2 separate regions of the Homo sapiens genome follow, and region 2 is linked to region 1. The links come from fine-mapping of genetic effects on gene expression. A gene starts in region 1. The other region holds a variant in brackets. All regions are shown on one strand. Distances are from middle to middle. Region 1 holds the start of CDC42EP4 (CDC42 effector protein 4). Region 2 overlaps CDC42EP4 (CDC42 effector protein 4).

Evidence for each region. PIP is the estimated chance that this variant, and not a neighbour inherited with it, causes the effect.
Region 2: its variant is fine-mapped to the expression of CDC42EP4 in whole blood (TOPMed, PIP above 0.99).

The regions. Positions count from the first base shown.
Region 1 is chr17:73,307,028-73,315,350 of GRCh38, forward strand. It overlaps CDC42EP4 (CDC42 effector protein 4), which reads right to left and starts at 4,974. Exons shown (of 2, transcript NM_012121.5): 1 at 4,866-4,974. RefSeq lists silencers at 3,723-3,852, 3,863-4,412, 4,863-5,122, 5,193-5,352.
Region 2 is chr17:73,288,119-73,296,441 of GRCh38, forward strand. All of the region lies in intron 1 of CDC42EP4 (CDC42 effector protein 4), which reads right to left. Among named protein-coding and RNA genes, the nearest start is that of CDC42EP4, 20 kb to the right of the region's middle. RefSeq lists enhancers at 2,808-3,027, 3,318-3,397, 3,372-3,666, 3,650-4,531, 3,798-3,867. The variant C/T (reference allele first, on the strand shown) is at 3,360.

The DNA.
Region 1 (8,323 bases):
CATCCAGGGATCCTTCTTGCCTGGCACTGTGGTTTTTCCAGATGCCTTCAGCTCCATCTTTGGGGTGAAGGGGAAACACCAGGTGTGCAGAGCAGTTTCTTACAGGTGGGGAACTGTAAGCCTTCATTAATGACCACACCCTAAACTGTGCTCACCTGAATCCCAAAAGAGAGACCCTTCCTCAGCTTGAGTGGAGACAGCCAGTTCCCCTGTTCCTGGCAAGGGAGGGCTTTGGATGCCAGCACTGCCATCCTGGCACAGAGCCCAGAGCTGCAAGCTGGCAGTGCCTGGGGGAGACTCCAATGTAAGTTAGTTGGAAGGAAGCCCAAGTCTCCTCAAGAAGGCGTATTTTAAGCTGGAGCTTTCGGGGCACGGTGAGCGGGAATGTGGGAGACTAATGTCTGAATTTTTCTTTCTTTCTTTTTTTTTTTTTTTTTTTAGACGGAGTCTCGCTCTGTCACCCAGGCTAGAATGCAGTGGCGCGATCTCGGCTCACTGCAAGCTCCGCCTCCCGGGTTCACACCATTCTCCTGCCTCAGCCTCCCAAGTAGCTGGGACTACAGGCGCCCACCACCAAGCCTAGCTAATTTTTTGTACTTTTTAGTAGAGACAGGGTTTCACTGTGTTAGTCAGGATGGTCTCGATCTCCTGACCTCCTGATCCACCCGCCTTGGCCTCCCAAAGTGCTGGGATTACAGGTGTGAGCCACCACGCCTGGCCCTGAATTTCTCTCTTTTTTTTTTTTTTTTTTTTGAGATGGAGTCTCACTCTATCGCCCATGCTGGAGTACAGCAACCTCCACCTCTTGGGTTCAAGCGATTCTTGTGTCTCAGCTTCCCCAGTAGCTGGGATTATAGGTGCACGCCACCATGCCCGGCTAATTTTTGTATTTTTAGTAGAGACGGGGTTTCACCATATTGGCCAGGCTGATCTCAAACTCCTGACCTCAAGTGATCTGCCCGCCTTGGCCTCCCCAAGTGCTGAGATTACAGGCGTGAGCCACTGTGCCCGGCCCTAATGTCTGAATTTCCTTCCCAACGCACTCAAGCAAAAAGGGCTGTGTCCAGTGCCACATGCGGGCTCCTTCCAGCACTACCATCCAGTTCCCTGCCGAGAGAGGGCACGCATGGGCTTGGCCTTCCTAGAGCACCCCAGAAGCACTGGCTGGAGTTGGCCTTCAGGACACTCTGCCGGATGACCCCTCAAAGTGTCCCCAGCTCCAGAATTTGGTTCTTTTCCTCACGGTCGGGAAAAATCCTCCAGTACGTAGGTCAGAAGAGCTACGCAGAGCTCAGGTCAGCTCTGTTTCCAGGGCGAGATTGCTCAACCCTTCTCCCTCCGCCCACAGGCCTTATCTCTGGCATCAACCCAGCTCCCCATTCCTCCAAGGGACGGACTCCTCCCTCCCCCCACAGGGACAAACTCCTCTGAGTCTGCAGAACCAGAATGAGAACACAGAAGGCTGGACTTACTGCTAACCAAGTGCAACCCTGACCACTCTGACTTCTGACTTCTTCACTTCGAACCCAATCCAAACGTAGGGGCGTGGGGTGGGGGAGAGTGAAAGGGAGAGGCCAACATCAAACACCTTTTGGCCACACCTGCGCACAGACAGTCCGGGCCGCAGAAATCAATCAGTCACTCCAAAGGGGTGGAAGCCCTGGGCCACTGCCAACCCAAGGCCCTTCTGGAAAAGCTCTGGACTTGTTAAGAAGGGTTGGCCAGGGCTGGGTGCAGTGGTTTACGCCTGTAATCCCGGCTCTTGGGGAGGCCGAGGTGGGTGGATTGCCTGAGTTCAGGAGTTCGCGACCGGCCTGGGCAACACAGTGAAACCCTGTTTCTACTAAAATACAAAAAAAAATTAGCCGGGCGTGGTGGCATGCACCTATAATCCCAGCTACTGCAGAGGCTGAGGCAGGAGAATTGCTTGAACCCGGGAGGTGGAGGATGCAGTGAGCCAAGATTGTGCCACTGCACTCCAGCCTGGGCAACAGAGCAAAGCTCTGTCTCCAAAAAAAAAAAAAAAAAAAAGGGTTGGCCAGGTGCAGTGGCTCATACCTGTATGCCCAGCACTTTGAGAGGCCGAGGTGGGGGAAGATCCCTTGAGCTCAGGAGTTCAAGACCAGCCTGGGCAACATGGTGAAACCCCACCTCTACAAAAAATACAAAAAATGGCTGGGCGTGGTGGTGGGCGCCAGTAGTCCCAGCTACTCAGGAGGCTGAAGTGGGAGGATAGCTTGAGCCCAGGAGGTCCAGCCTGCAGTGAGCCTTGACTATGACGCTGCACCACAACCTGGGTGACAGAGCAAGACCTGGTCTCAAAAAATTAATAAATAAAATAAAAATTATTTTTAAAATCAAAAGACTGGTGTAAGATTCCTCTCCCAGGTCAACACTCACTCCCCTGACCTTTATACATGAGACCTCCCTTTGCTTCTGACTCCTTGGTCTCTGGTTCTGTGAGGTGCTGTCGGGTTCCAGAGGCAGCAGCACAGTGGAGGCAGGGTACAGAGGATGGGGACAAGCACGGTGGGTGGGCAAGGGAAAGAGAGAAACGAGGGGAAAAGAGAAGAGGAATCCAAAAAGAGAGAGGCAGAAACCCCAGAAAATGGAGAATCATTCACAGCACAGGCCTAGGCTGTACAGCAGAGCAGGAGCAAGCTGCCCTCTGTGTGCAGGGACCCTAGGACTTCAGGGAGATTTCAGAGGGGAGGCGCTGAGACTCACCCCAGAACCACCGCCCATATGATCACAGCGGGCCCCTCCTAGTCCCTGCAGGGGTCCACCAGGATGCCTGGGAATCCACTTGGGATCTCCCCAAATTCACTGAACACCCCTTGTGGGAAGGAGCAGCTGTCTTCAAGGAGTGGAGAGGCAAAGTCCAAGTTCAGAGGAGATAAGCCACCCCACTAATCAGTCAGTCACATGTGCAGCTCACACAGGGCAGTTGATGAGAGCAGGAACCGGCAGGGCACCCCCGCATTCAGTAGGCACTGGCTTCTCAGCAGAGATAGAGCCTCAGGAGATCCTGGTGGATGCCCTGTTATTGCCCCAGGAGCCCCTGGGGCTGCCAGGGGCTCTCTTAGGGCCTGGCTCAGTCCCAGCCAACTCCCGATTTCTGGGAGAAATCAGAAATCCGCAGCTCAGCAATCCCTTCCTTTGTGGCCTGTTCTTTGTTCTCTTAAAATTCAGTCCACCCTGCTGGTGGTCCCTCCTCCACCCTAGCCTCAGAAGCGGGCGGGGGCTGAGGGAGTTATTGGAAACCCAGACTGCCAAAGAAGTCGCCTTGCAGGAGGCCCCTGTCACCGGCCCCTCATTATTTACACTCGCTGGATGGGACATTTCTCTGGTACAGATGGCTGCTGGGGTTCGGACGAGAGAGAGATTTTCCCTCCAGCACCCTGGACCCTCAGGGGAGGGCAGGGGGCTTCGCAGCGACGGGGGCTCCCAAGGACTCCACCCGGATCCAGCTGCTCAGCTATCTGGGCAAACAGTGGGCACCGGGCACACAGTAAGGGATGTGGGAGCCGGTCAGATTGCAAGGGGTGGGAGTCGTGGAGAGAGAGAAGTTCCAGAGGCAACGAGAAAAGAAAAGGCATTGTATTTCCCCTCCATTCTCCCAGGGAGAAAAAGAAAACTTCCAAAGCCGAGGCCGCAGTCACTGGGAAAACACAGGGAACCTGGTTTGAGTTAGCAGCGAGCACCCCTCCCCCAGTCACACACACACACACACACACACACACACACACACACACACACACACACACGCACTTCAGTCCTCTCCCAGGAAGCTGGCTCAGCCTCAGCCCCGGCTCCCGCCCAGCTCTCCAGCCCTCCCGGCCGGGGCACTCACCGGCTGACGGGATCCCCGCGGGCAGGATGGCTCCTGGGGGACGCGCCGGGGGCAGGGGGCAGTTTTGTAACCCCGGCTGGGGGCGCTCCGGAGAGGGGGCGGGGCCAGGGACGGCCGATCCGCGCGCACCCGCCCCAAGCGGGCGATTAAATCATTAACCGACCGCTCCCGCCTGCGATCCCGCTGAGCGCGCTGAGCTCGGGGCGCACTAGCCCAGGAGCGGCCGTCTCCCCGGCTCCAAGGGGGCGGGTGGCTCGACTGCCCTCCCCCCGCACCCCGCCAGGAGGCGCCTCGGCCTCCCGGGCTTCCGAGGGAGCGGGCGGGGCGGGAGCCTGGCGGGGGAGGGAAGGGTTCGCGGGGCGGGAGTAGGGGAAAGGAGGACCATTTGTTCCTTCGGCCATTCCCTTCCAGACAGCTCCTTCCCTCTGGCTTCCCGGCCGGGTGACATTGGGTGGCGTGTGCTGCAGTGTGTGTACGAGAGCGAGATGTGTACACGCCTCTGCCCGTACAGGCGGAGAATTCGGTTCTTATTCATGGAGAACTCCGGGCGCACACACGCCCCCCTCGCGGAGATCGCGGGCCGCGCGCCGCCGATTGCTGCGCTCCTGCCCACACCGACACACACCCCATTCCTGGGAAGGGGGAGGCCCTTTAAAACCGGCCCCCAACCCCCTCAGCGGCACCCTTGGCCAGGGCCGGGAGTTCCAGCGTGGAGAGAGGAAATGGAGTCCCGGCAACGCTGCGCCCGGCTCCCTGCCACCTCCTCCTCCACACATCCCGCTCTGCCAGGACACTAGGTGCGCAGCTTAGGGTCCCAGGCACCGCGGTGGGCGCGGTGAAAAGCGCGAGCGCCGAGAAGTGGGGGCTCCGCGCCCTTCTCCCCGCGCCGCGGCCTCGCATCCCCAGCTTCGATCCTCTCTGCCCCACAGGGGGACTCGAGACCCCCAAGCCCACCCAGGGCACCCAGCGCGAAGGCGGCTACCACAGACAGAGGCGGTTGCCCGTCGCCTACCTCGGTCCCCGGAGACCCGAGCTCTGGGCCGGCTGCGCTGTCCCCTTCGTGGGCTCCGCGCGGCGGAGGGGCTGGCGGCCCCTGTCAGCGCCGGCGTTTGTTTCCCTCTGGCTCTCGGGCTTTCAGGGCTGGGAGCCTCCAGGACACTCCCCTTCCAGGCTCCGCCCGCGCCCGCCCCGCGCAACCCTCCCCGCGCACCCCTCTGCGCTGATGTCACGGCGCCGCAGCAGCCAATGGCCGTCGGGAACCTCTGCCCGACTGCTCGGCCTCCTCGGTTCAAACTGAAAGCCTGAGACTTTCCCAACTCCGTATGGGGCAGCCTGGGCCCGCCCGGCTTCCGGGAGACACTCCCGCCCCAGCCTGCGCTCCGGCCGCGAACCCCCACTGGGGCCCCCAGGGCCAGGGGCGCGTCTCCCTCCGGGGGCCTGGCGCGAGGCTCTTTTGAGGCTCTTCCCCATTCGAGCCGGGGCAAGAAACCAAGAACTCCAGCCCGGGTGGCGTTCCTCGTTCCTGCTCCCTCCCGGACCTGCTAACCACCTGGCTGCAGTACTGTCGGGAGATGGGGCAGGAGGGCTGGCGCCACCAGCTTCGTGGGTGCCATCCCAGACTCTCGCTGTAAACGAGGGAGCGGGGAGGAGCCGGCCAGCCCCGAGGCCAGGCTTGGACTGGGCGTCAGAAATGTTTCTACAGGGTGACAGCCCTTGAGCTCCCCGCATCCCCGTCTGTGCCTTTGCCTCCTAAGTATCAGCTGAGGCTAAATTTGCACCAGGTGAACGTCAAGGAGGATCAACTCCTGAGTCCCAGAGCCTGAATCCAAGTCCCAGGCCTTGGACTCTATTCTTTTTAGAGGAATAGTTTCAGTTGAAATGATCATTATCAAGGTAGAATGCCAGCTGCGAAGTAGTCAACTAAAGTGGACAAGGCGCAAAGTGAAAAGTTCCCTTGCCTCTAGCTGAACCCCACCCTCGGTTTTTAAAGGAAGTGAGGGTGAAGGCCCCAGACTTTCCCCATGGCTGCGAGGTCCCTAAGCCCTCAGGAACATTCTGCTTTCTGGGGACAGCACATTTCCGTTTCCCTCTGCAGTGCGACAGCAACCAGCTCTTGAGAGCTAATGGTTTGGCCACTCCATCCTGCTGTGAAAATTAAGTTCTGGGCTGGGCGCAGTGGCTCATGCCTGTAATCCTAGCATTTTGGGAGGCCAAGGCAGGTGGGGGGTCACTTGAGGTCAGAAGTTTGAGACCAGCCTGGCCAACATGGCGAAACCCCATCTCTACCAAAAATACAAAAATTAGTCGGGCATGGTGGTGGGCGCCTGTAATCCCAGCTACCCAGGAGGCTGAGGCGGGACAATCGCTTGAACCTGGGAGGTGGAGGTTGCAGTGAGCCGAGATCGCGCTATTGCACTCTAGCCTGGGTGACAGAGGTAGACTCCATCTCAAAAAAAAAAATAAATGAATAATAAGTAAAATCAAATTCTGAACTGGACATCTGGAGGGAAAGGTAGGGTTTGGAGCCACTTGGGAGGCAGACACTGTGGATTCAAACCCTGGCGGGGTTATCATGGATGTAAACCAAAAAGTGACTAAGGCAGATCTCAATCAAATAGAGGTTTAGTTAGCCAAGGTTGAGGATCCACCGGGGAAAAATCACCTTTTTTCCAAAAAGGTTTTGGGAACTTCTGTATTTAAAAGAGAAAAAGCAAGCAGGAAAGGAAAAGAAGAGGGAGAGAGGGAGGAAAGGCATTGAGGTCACAAGCGTGTGAGGCTCTGATTTAGTGTCTGTAAGTCTACATTTTACATGTGAAAGGGAATAGAAGAAAAAGTCAATGATGCATTGTCTCCTACTCAGTACGTCTAAGGGGAGCAAAGGAAACCCTGTGTCAACAGGGTTGTGAAACTGCAGCTATCTGGGAACAAAAGGAAAGCAGCTTCTGTGGTTTCCAAGCTTAACGTCCCCCCCAGCCCCGCCCCTTTTTTTTTTTTGGAGACAGGGTCTTGCTCTGTTGCCCAGGCTGGAGTGCAGTGCTGCAATCGTAGCTCACTATAGCCTTGGCCTCCTGGGCTCAAGCGATCCTCCCACCTCACCCTCCTGAGTAGCTGAGACTACAGGTGTGCGCCACCATGCCCAGCTACATATTTTGTACTTTTTCTTTTGTAGAGACAGGGTTCTGTCATGTTGCCCAGGCTGGTCTCAAACTCCTGAGCTCAAGCAATCCACCCACCTCAACCTCCAAAAGTGCTGGGATTAAACTTTCCCTTTGACATAGTGAATTTGGGGTCCCGAGATTCTATTCCCTTTCACATGGGGAAGTCGCTAATTCCCACCTCTGACCCTTAGCTAGCCTGGCTGTCCTTATGTGTCCAAAGAGCACAGGACCCCTCTGCTAGCCTCGTCTGGAGGGTGTAAAGAGGAATGAGATATCAGGTGTGAAAGCGCTTTATGACTAGAAAGCAACCAGAATGGAGGTGATTGCTGTCATCATGACCTAGTGCCAAAGGTGTCCTCAAAAGAAGTAGGAGCTGCAACAGGACTGTGGGTAAGGCTCGCTGGATAGAGGTTTGGAGACGCCTCTGGATTGGAATTCTAGCTCTGCCATTTATGAGCTGACAAGTTATCCACCAGCTTCCCCATCTGTAAAGTGAGAACAGCAATCTCTACCTTCCCCTATTGGGGTGAATATTAAAAGAGATCACTTAGGCTGGGCGCGGTGGCTCATGCCTGTAATCCCACTGCTTTGGGAGGCTGAAGCCAGTGGATCGCTTGAGCCCAGGAGTTCAAGAGAAACCTGGCAACCTGGCGAAACCCCATCTCTACAAAAGTATACAAAAATCAGCAAGGTGTGGTGGTGCATGCCTGTAGTCCCAGCTATTTGGGAGGCTGAGATGGGAGAATCCACTTGAGCCTGCAGGTTGAGGCTGCAGTAAGCCAAGATCATGCCACTGCATTCTAGCCTGGGTAACAGAGGGAGACCCTGTCTCAAAAAACAAACAAACAAACAAACAAAGGCACCTGGCCATTTGCTGGGCATATGCAGGCCCTCAGTGGGTCTCCTTCTACCACATTGCTTCCAGGTGGAAGTCCTCCCTGGTTCCTGGCGTTCCAGGACCTCTTTCTCCTGAAATCATAGCTTAAGTTAAAAACAAAAACAAAAAAAAAACGTTTCTTATTTTCTCTGAGACATCTCCCTCTCCCCATCTCTTTCCTTCCATTTTAAATGAAGTATTTCGGTTTTCTTAGGGCTAGCTGTTAGTAATCTGTTTTCCTTTTCCCAATTATCATCCATATCTATTAAGCACACCTCCGGGACAAAGTCTTTAGGTCCCTTTGTAATTCTGCTCCTTACCCAAATTCAGGCTCCTTCCACAAACATTTAACAACAGTGGAGGCTTGCCTTTGGGGACAAAGACAACGAAGCCCAGTCCCTGCCCTCAGGACGCCTAGAGTAGAAACAAACTGCT
Region 2 (8,323 bases), 19 kb before region 1:
TCCCAGGAAACCTTTAGCCACCACCTGCCCCCCACGGCACTTTGGGAGATGTCCCCTCTTCCAGCAGATACTGGCTACATTATTCTGTCCCTGCTGGCTGGACTCTCATCTTCCCACTGCAGTACAAACTTCTAGGGTTTTGAGGCAGATTCTCGCCCTGTCCCCCAGGCCGGAGTGTAATGGCATGATCTTGGCTCACTGCAACTTCTGCCTCCCGGGTTCTAGCGATTCTCTTGCCTCAGTCTCCTGAGTAGCTGAGATTTACAGGTGCACACCACCACGTCCAGCTATTTTTTTTTTTTTTTTGTAATTTTAGTAGAGATAGAGATGGAGTTTCACCATGTTGGTCAGGCTGGTCTCGAACTCCTGACCTCAGGTGATCCACCCACCTCGGCCTCCCAGTGCTGGGATCAGGACGTGGGATCAGCGTGAGCCACCGCGCCTGGTCCATCCAGAGGGTTTTAACAGGTCTGTTTACCACCGAGTCTGGTCCAGCAGGGTGTGACACATGGTCCGCCTCCAACCGCCTCCAAGCACCCACTGGAAGTCCAGCACCTCCCTCCTCTCCTCCCCTTCTGCCCACAGCCTGGCTCCAGGGCTCCCAGCCTGACCTCTCTGCATCCTCACCCCCATCCGCTTCCCTGTTCTCTCAAGCCTCTGCTGCCCAGCCTCATGGCTTCCCCCACCAGCAATGTCCCCCCTCCCAGTGCCCACGCCATACCGCTTATCATTCCAGCAAACACAAAGTTCTCTCGGGCAGGGAGGGGGAGCCAGGCACCTGGCAGACTTGCCACACAGTGACGTGGGCGAGGACGTGAGGGATGCCTTGAGATGATACTCTACTCTGGGTCATAGGTCAGCTCTCTCTCCTCCCTACCCTTAGGAAAGTGACCTTCCCCTAACTCTAACTTGGATTATCTCTGGGCCCCACCCTCCTGCCCCACCTCAACCTCTAAACAATTAGACATTGAACCGCTAGACCAAAGGTCAGCAAACACTTTTTGCAAAGGGCCAGAGAGTAAATATTCTCGGCCTTGTGGCTGATAGGGTTTTTGTCACAGCTACTCAACTGTCTTCTTAGTATAAAACTAGCCGTTGGCCGGGCACAGTGGGTCACAACTGTAATCCCAGCACTCTGGGAGGCTACGGCAGGAGGATCAGTTGAGCCCAGGAGTTCCAGACCAGCCTGGGCAACACGGTGAGACCCCATCTCTACACAAAATCAAAAAAAGAAAGAAAGGAGCCATAGCAACATGTAAACAAGTAGGCATGGCTATGTTCCAATAACATTTTATTTACAGACAACTTCTGGGTTGGTGAGCAGATCGAGGTGCCAGGAAGGTGGTGCGTGCCCTGCCCCCCACCCCAACACTTGACCCCACGCATCCTCATGCAGCTCTTCCGTTTGGCTGTTCCTGAGTCGTATCTTTTGTAATAAACCAGTAAAAGAAAAAAAACCACCAAAAAGCCACATCTTTATTTACAAAAGCAAACGCAGGCTGGGTTTGGCCCATGGACTGTAGTTTGCTGACTCCTGAATATCATATATGACCCTCTTGGCCAGCCATGGGCTCCTAGGCAAAACTCTGAAGAAAACAGGAAGGGAGGAAGGGAGGGAGGGAGGAAGGGAGGGAGGAAGGGAGGGGAAGGAAAGGAAGGAAGGAAAGGAAATAAGGAAAGAAAAAAAGAAAGAGAGAAAGAAAAAGAAAGGAAAGAAGGAAAGGAAAGGAAGAGAAGAAAGGAAGAAAGGAAAAGAAAAGCAAGGAAGGAAAGAAAGAGAAAAAGAAGCAGCAGAAGAAAAGAAAAAGAAAAAGAGAAGGTAGACTCTGCCTCAGTCACGTTGGGCATAGAAGGGAAAAAGGCCAAGCTTCAAACGAACTCTCGTTCCTGGCAAATCCTTCAGGCTTCTACTGCCACCAGCAGGGACACCAGTCAGGAACGGAGGGGACCCCATCTTCCACCTGCCTGCACCCCGACTCCTGGCTCTACGCACAGCATCCAGGAATCTCAAAGAACTGGAGGGGATATTCAGTGCAGCACTTTCACTTTATGGATGAGGAAACAAGTTTATTGAAGGAAAGTGATTTATCCAGGTTTTTAGCCCAAAGCAACAGAGCTGGGCTAGAAACTGGGTCTTTGAGTCCAGAGCTCTCTCCGCTCCACTCCAGGCCCTTCTCCAGCTCTGGCGGCGGCATTGCTGGTCAGTGACCACCGACCACTGAGTGCTCCTCCCCACTGCTGGCCGGCAGGGTACAGAGAAGGGGGTACCCAACAGCTGCTTCAAGAAGGTTCTTGTGTAATCCTAGAGCAGGTTCCACACTGTTGCTATTTGGGCCAGATAATTTCTCATCGGGAGGTGGACCTGCCCTGTGCACTGTAGGATATTCAGCAGCATCCCTGGTCTCTACCCATTAGATGCCAGTAGCATCCACCCCCCAGTCACAACAAGCAAAACTGTCTCAAGATATTGCCCAATGTCCCCCAGGAGGCAAAACTGCCCCAGTTGAGAAACAGCAGCCTTGAGTGAGAACACACAGGTGAAGATAGAGCAGGTATGCTCACCAGGTAAACAACAAAGACAGAGAAGCAGGGAGGCGGGTGTGGATGGTCAGAACCGGGTGAGAACATGGCGGCACGAGCCCCCAGAGCTGCGTTAAGGGTTTCAACGCCAAGGCAGGAACCCCCAGACCCTGTGAGTGATGTCAGGTCCTGTGGTTTCCCGATCTTATACGCTCATTAGAGAGGAAAGAAAGGGAAACCACAGACCCGGCTCCCCAGGACTCACCAGAGAAGCTGCAGGTCACTGTGGCTGCCCAAAGGGACCAAATATCCTGGCCATGATGGCTACAGGGGAGGACAGCTCCCCGCATCCCATTAGCCACACCACCCAGCACATCCTTGCGGGTAGAACTATTGAGGTAGGTCAGAGGGGACAGCAGGGAAACTCAGCTGAAATCACGGCCATCCTGGGCTAGCCCTGGGGTCCCCAGGATCTTGTTCAACCCCACACCCCAGAAAGACAGGGACAGGTCTACCCAGTGCTGCCTGCTGCCACGGTCTCGCTTCCTGGGGGGTTGGGAACGAGACTTTGTGGCTTGTAGAAAGCCATCTTCAATAACCAGCAAGGAAGGGTCCTGAGAGAGTTGGGGCCTAGAGGGAGTCACGCATCTGTCCCACTGCCCCAGCGAGGAGGGGGCTGCAGTACCTGGCAGTCCACACTGGGGATGAGGCCTGGGTGTCTGGAGCTCAGACTAGACAGGCCACCCAGCAGGATTGAGGGTCAGCAACAGCTTGGTTTCACCAGCCTTGAGTGACCTTGAGTCACTCTGAGCTTCTAACAGAGAACAGTTTGGAGGTGA[C/T]GAGCTGGATCATAGAGTTTAAGAGAAAGTAGGTGGTGGGAGTCTCGCCAGAGGCCTGGGCAGGTCCTGGGGGCAGCTATGGTTTGGGAGGCCACAGGGCATTGTGGCTTTGGGCGGGGCTTTCAGAAGCATGGTGACTCAGCTCTGGGGAAGTGGCTAAAATAGGCTGCCCAACGTGGGGCAGGCACTCCCCATAGCCTGCCTTGGGCGGGACACCCCCACCCCACCCCAGAAACCACATCCCACTTTCTTGGCAGGGAGAGGGAAAATGGATCACAGCTCACAGCCCTCCCTAGCTCTCCTGAGCCTCCGGAGGAACAGATTCCTCTACCCTCAGCCCACTGACCACGGAACCTTCCTTTAAGGTGGGAACGAGGAGCCCTCCCCAGAAGGTCAGGCCCCTGCTTGGGTCACAGCAACCACACCTTTAGTTCAGCCCTGTTCCTGAGACTACGGAAGACCACCCTTGCCTGGACCCCTCGCCTATCCTCCCTGGCCCTCCCAGCTTGGCCAGCCCAGCAGACCCAGAGCAGAAGGACAGACGGGACCAACACTTCTCACTCCAAGTGACCGGGCAGTGGCCTGTCCCTGGCAGCTTGGCTTGAGGCAGGCGCCAGACCTGAGCTCTCATGGGGCAGCTAGGCAGGCCTCGCTCTCTGAAGCTGCCCTGCGGTTCACCCCGGTATACAGGGTACACAACATGCCTCAATGCCCACTGCCACTGCCTCCGCCACTGCTGCTGGGCAGCATGCCCTCTGCAGGGCCTTCCCCTAGCTGTTCTAACCAACCACCCGATGCCAGGTCCAGGCAATGTGGCCGAATAGCAGAGGGCTTTTAGTGCACGATGACTTTAGTTGTGACCTGGATCGGCTACAAGAGGCTTTGTTCCATTACTCATCATCCAGTCACTCACTCCATGACTTCCTGCAGACCCACTGATATTCACAAACTCTTCTAGGCCCTGGAGATAGAGCAGTGAAAATAGCACGCTGTTTTCCCAGGGCACGTGTGTAGTGTGAGTGTGGGGGGTGGGGGTGGGGAATGGAGGTGTAAACCTATAAATAAAATAAATGGTATCTCATATTCCTCAGTATAAGGAGGGAAAGGGGTGGTATGAGTGGGTGTGGGAGTCAGGGGGTCTGGGGGAGGCCCCTCTTGAGGAAGGAGCATCATGAGTTGAGAACCAAATGATGAGAAGGAACCAGCCGGGTCAGAAGCGACCCAGGCAGAGGGAACGGCGCGTGCAAACGCCGGGGTATAGGAACAGGCTTGTGGCATTTATGGAATAGAATAAAAATCCATGCAGCCAGGGCCCAGGTTACATAGAGCCCTCCCTACCAGGCCACATAAAGAGTTCTGTTTTGTTTTTAGTTTTTATTACAGGCACCTGCCATCATGCCCAGTTAATTTTTGAATTTTTTGGAGAGACCAGGTTTCACCATGTTGGCTAGGCTGGTCCTGAACTCCTGACTTCAGGTGATCTGCCCGCCTCGGCCTCCCAAAGTGCTGGGATTACAGGAGCCACTGCTCCTGGCCGATTTTTTTATGTTTTTAGAGATGGGGTTTCACCACGTCGGCCAGGCTGGTCTCGAACTCCTGGCATCAAGCAATCCACCCGCCTTGGCCTCCCAAAGTTCTGGCATTACAGGCATGAGCCACCGCACCCAGCCCAGGTAAGGAGTTTGGAGGTCATTATAGGTGTACAAGGAAACCGGCGGCTGTTTGTAAGCAGGCGAGTGATTCAATCTGTGTATCTGGAAGCTCCCGGAGGTCCTGGCATTGGAGGAATGAAGGAGGGGAGCTGGAATTCAGTCAGGAGGCTGTTGCAGAAATGCAGGTCAAAGAGGATGGAGACCAGGATGTGGGTCTGGCGAAGGGGGACACAGTGGGAGACATTTAGGCCATGTTTTGGAGGTAGAGACACCCGGGATTGTGGAGGGCCCAGACCAGGGAGGAGAGAAAAGACAGGATCAAATGGGACTCCAGGCCTTCCAGGGGCAGCCTCTGGTCCTGGCCATCCTTTCCCAGGTTTTGCCTGGCAGGCCACGGCCCCTTCTCACAGGAGGGGCTGACATCCTACCCCTAGGCGGAACTTCACTTTGCCGAAACACAGGTGGCATTCTGCTACACAAGGCTTGTCAGATGGAACAGCACGCTGGAGGGGGTTGTGCAAGAGGCTCACTGGGACATGGGCCACAACTCTAAGAGGTGAGGGACTCTGGCTTTAGTCACCAGAGAAAAATCCAGTACTTTCTGGAACACTCACCAGCCTTACCCTGCAAAGATAGGAAAGCACAGGGAAGGCGGAAGACTGTGTTTCATTCAAACTGTGGCAGGGCTGAGGGCAGCTAAGTGAATGGGCGAGAACAGTGACCGCTTAGATACACGTGGTTACATGTTCCAGGCAGGACTTCAATGCCGACTGTGTTGTGATTTTAGCTGACTTTAGTATTCTTGGGGATCTTTTAACTCCTTCATGTGCCCTGCTCAAAAGCCCTTGCATCTGGAAGTGTGCTGCGTGCGCAAGGAGGTTAAGGCTCACTGCTGTAATATTCTGAGCCTAAGTAACCACAATCAAAAACCAAACACAAGGCCGGGCGTGGTGGCTCACACCTGTAATCCCAGCACTTTGGGAGGCTGAGGCGGGTGGATCTCCTGAGGTCAGGAGTTCGAGACCAGCCTGGCCAACATGGTGAAACCCCATCTCCACTAAAAACACAGAAATCAGCCAGGCATGGTGGTGTGCACCTGTAGTCCCAGTTATTCAGGAGGCTGAGGCAGGGAGAATCGCTTGAACCCAGGAGGTGGAGGTTGCAGTGAGCTGAGATCGCGCCACTGCATTCCAGCCTGGGTGACAGAGCAAGATTCTGTCTCAAAAAAAAACAAACAAAGAAACAAAAAAACAAACCCAGGATGGGAACATGAAATGTCACCATCAGGACTCCTGTACCATTTATGTATCTGTGTCAAATATCTCCTTAAAATACCTGGGTGTGGAGGGATCATACTTTCAAGATGGAAAGACCAAATTAAGGGACTTGCCCTAGGTCATGGATTGAAGCCAGAGTTTAATTCCCACCCCAGGGCTCCATTCACTTAAACAGCAATGTACTATCAAAAGTAGGGGGCATCACAGGACAAACACTGAATATGTAATTTGTGTATATACATATATGTGTATATATCTACACACATATATATTTTTATAGGTTATATTCATGTCTATTGTCATTCCACGCATTAGTAAGTTTTAGTTTACACACACACACCACACACACACACGCATGTGCACAAGTTTTGGTGTGTTCTTTCTAAATCCCAGTGGATTTTCTTTTTCTTTCTTTTTTTTGAGACAGAGTTTCGCTCTTGTTGCCCATGCTGGAATGTAATGGTGCACTCTTGGCTCACTGTACCTCCACCTCCCAGATTCAGGCAATTCTCCTGCCTTAGCCTCCTGAGTAGCTGGGATTACAGGCACCTGCTACCACACCCGGCTAATTTTTGTATTTTTTTTAGTAGAGACGGGGTTCCACCATGTTGGCCAAGTTGGTCTCAAACTCCTGACCTCAGGGGATCCACCTGCCTCGGCCTCCCAAAGTGCTGGGATTACAGGCTTGAGCCATTGCGCCTGGCCCCAGTGGATTTTCTTATGTACTCCTTGGGGTGCTAAAATGCAGCACCCACTGTGTCACATGACTCCCACTGAGATTGAGAGATGGTAGACATCTGGGAGAGGATCCAACCCAGTGGTCTTGATTAGGCTGTTGGGACCAGGAGAGGTGACTTGCCAAAGGCCACAGAACTCACAAGGGAGCCGGGCGGTGCTGGAGCCCAAGTCTCTTGACTCCCACCCCAAAGATCTTCCCCAGATAACACCTCAATGGGCTCACCGCCAGGCACTAGGACAACCTTCTGATGTTTGCTACCATCTTGCCCAAATTAAGAGCTGGGAAAGAGAAGAGGGAAGGACCTTCCTCCCACTGAGCAATTGGTACTAGGTGCCACCAGGCAGGGGGAACATTACAAAACTCTGATCCAAGAGCTGCTCAGAGTCAAAATGGTCCCAGGGTGGGGTGGTCTTGCGGTACATGAAACTCCAGCAAAATTTCTTCAAATAATGGCTTTAAAATAAATGATGGTTTTGGCCAGGTGTGGTGGCTCATGCCTGTAATCCCAGCACTTTGGGAGGCTGAGGTAGGTGGATCACCTGAGGTCAGGAGTTTGAGACCAGCCTGGCCAACATGGTGAAACCCCATCTCAACTAATAATACAAAGAAATTAGCCAGGCATGGTGGCGGGTGCCTGTAATCCCAGCTACTAGGGAGGCTGAGGCAGGAGAACTGCTTGAACCTGGGAGGCAGAGGTTGCAGCACACTGAGATCATGCCATTGCACTCCAGCCCAGGCGACAAGAGTGAAACTCCATCTCCAAAAAAAAAAAAAAAAGAATGATGGTTTTAAAATGAATATGATTCAGTTTCCTCAAATAATGGCTTTAAAATGAATGTGATTTAAATGAATATGATTTACCTCCTAGAACTTAACCCTGTGGAACTATTTCAAAGGCGAAAAAAGTCACACACGTATTTGTTGAAGCCTTATTCATAATAGCGAAAGACTGGAGACAGGCTAGTCGCAGTGGCTCACGCCTGTAATCCCAGCACTTTGGGAGGCCGAGGCGGGTGGACCACGACGTCAGGAGTTTGAGACCAGCCTGACCAATATGGCGAAACCCTGTCTCTACTAAAAATACAAAAAAAAAAAAAATTAAAAAATACATAAAAAAATAAAATTAGCTGGGCCTGGTGGTGTGCGCCTGTAATCCCAGCTACTCAGGAGGCTGAGGCAGGAGAATGGCTTGAACCTGGGAGGCAGAGGTTGCAGTGAGCCGAGATCACGCCATTGCACTCCAGCCTGGGCAACAGAGGGAGACTCCATCTCAAAAAAAAAAAAAAAAAAAGACTG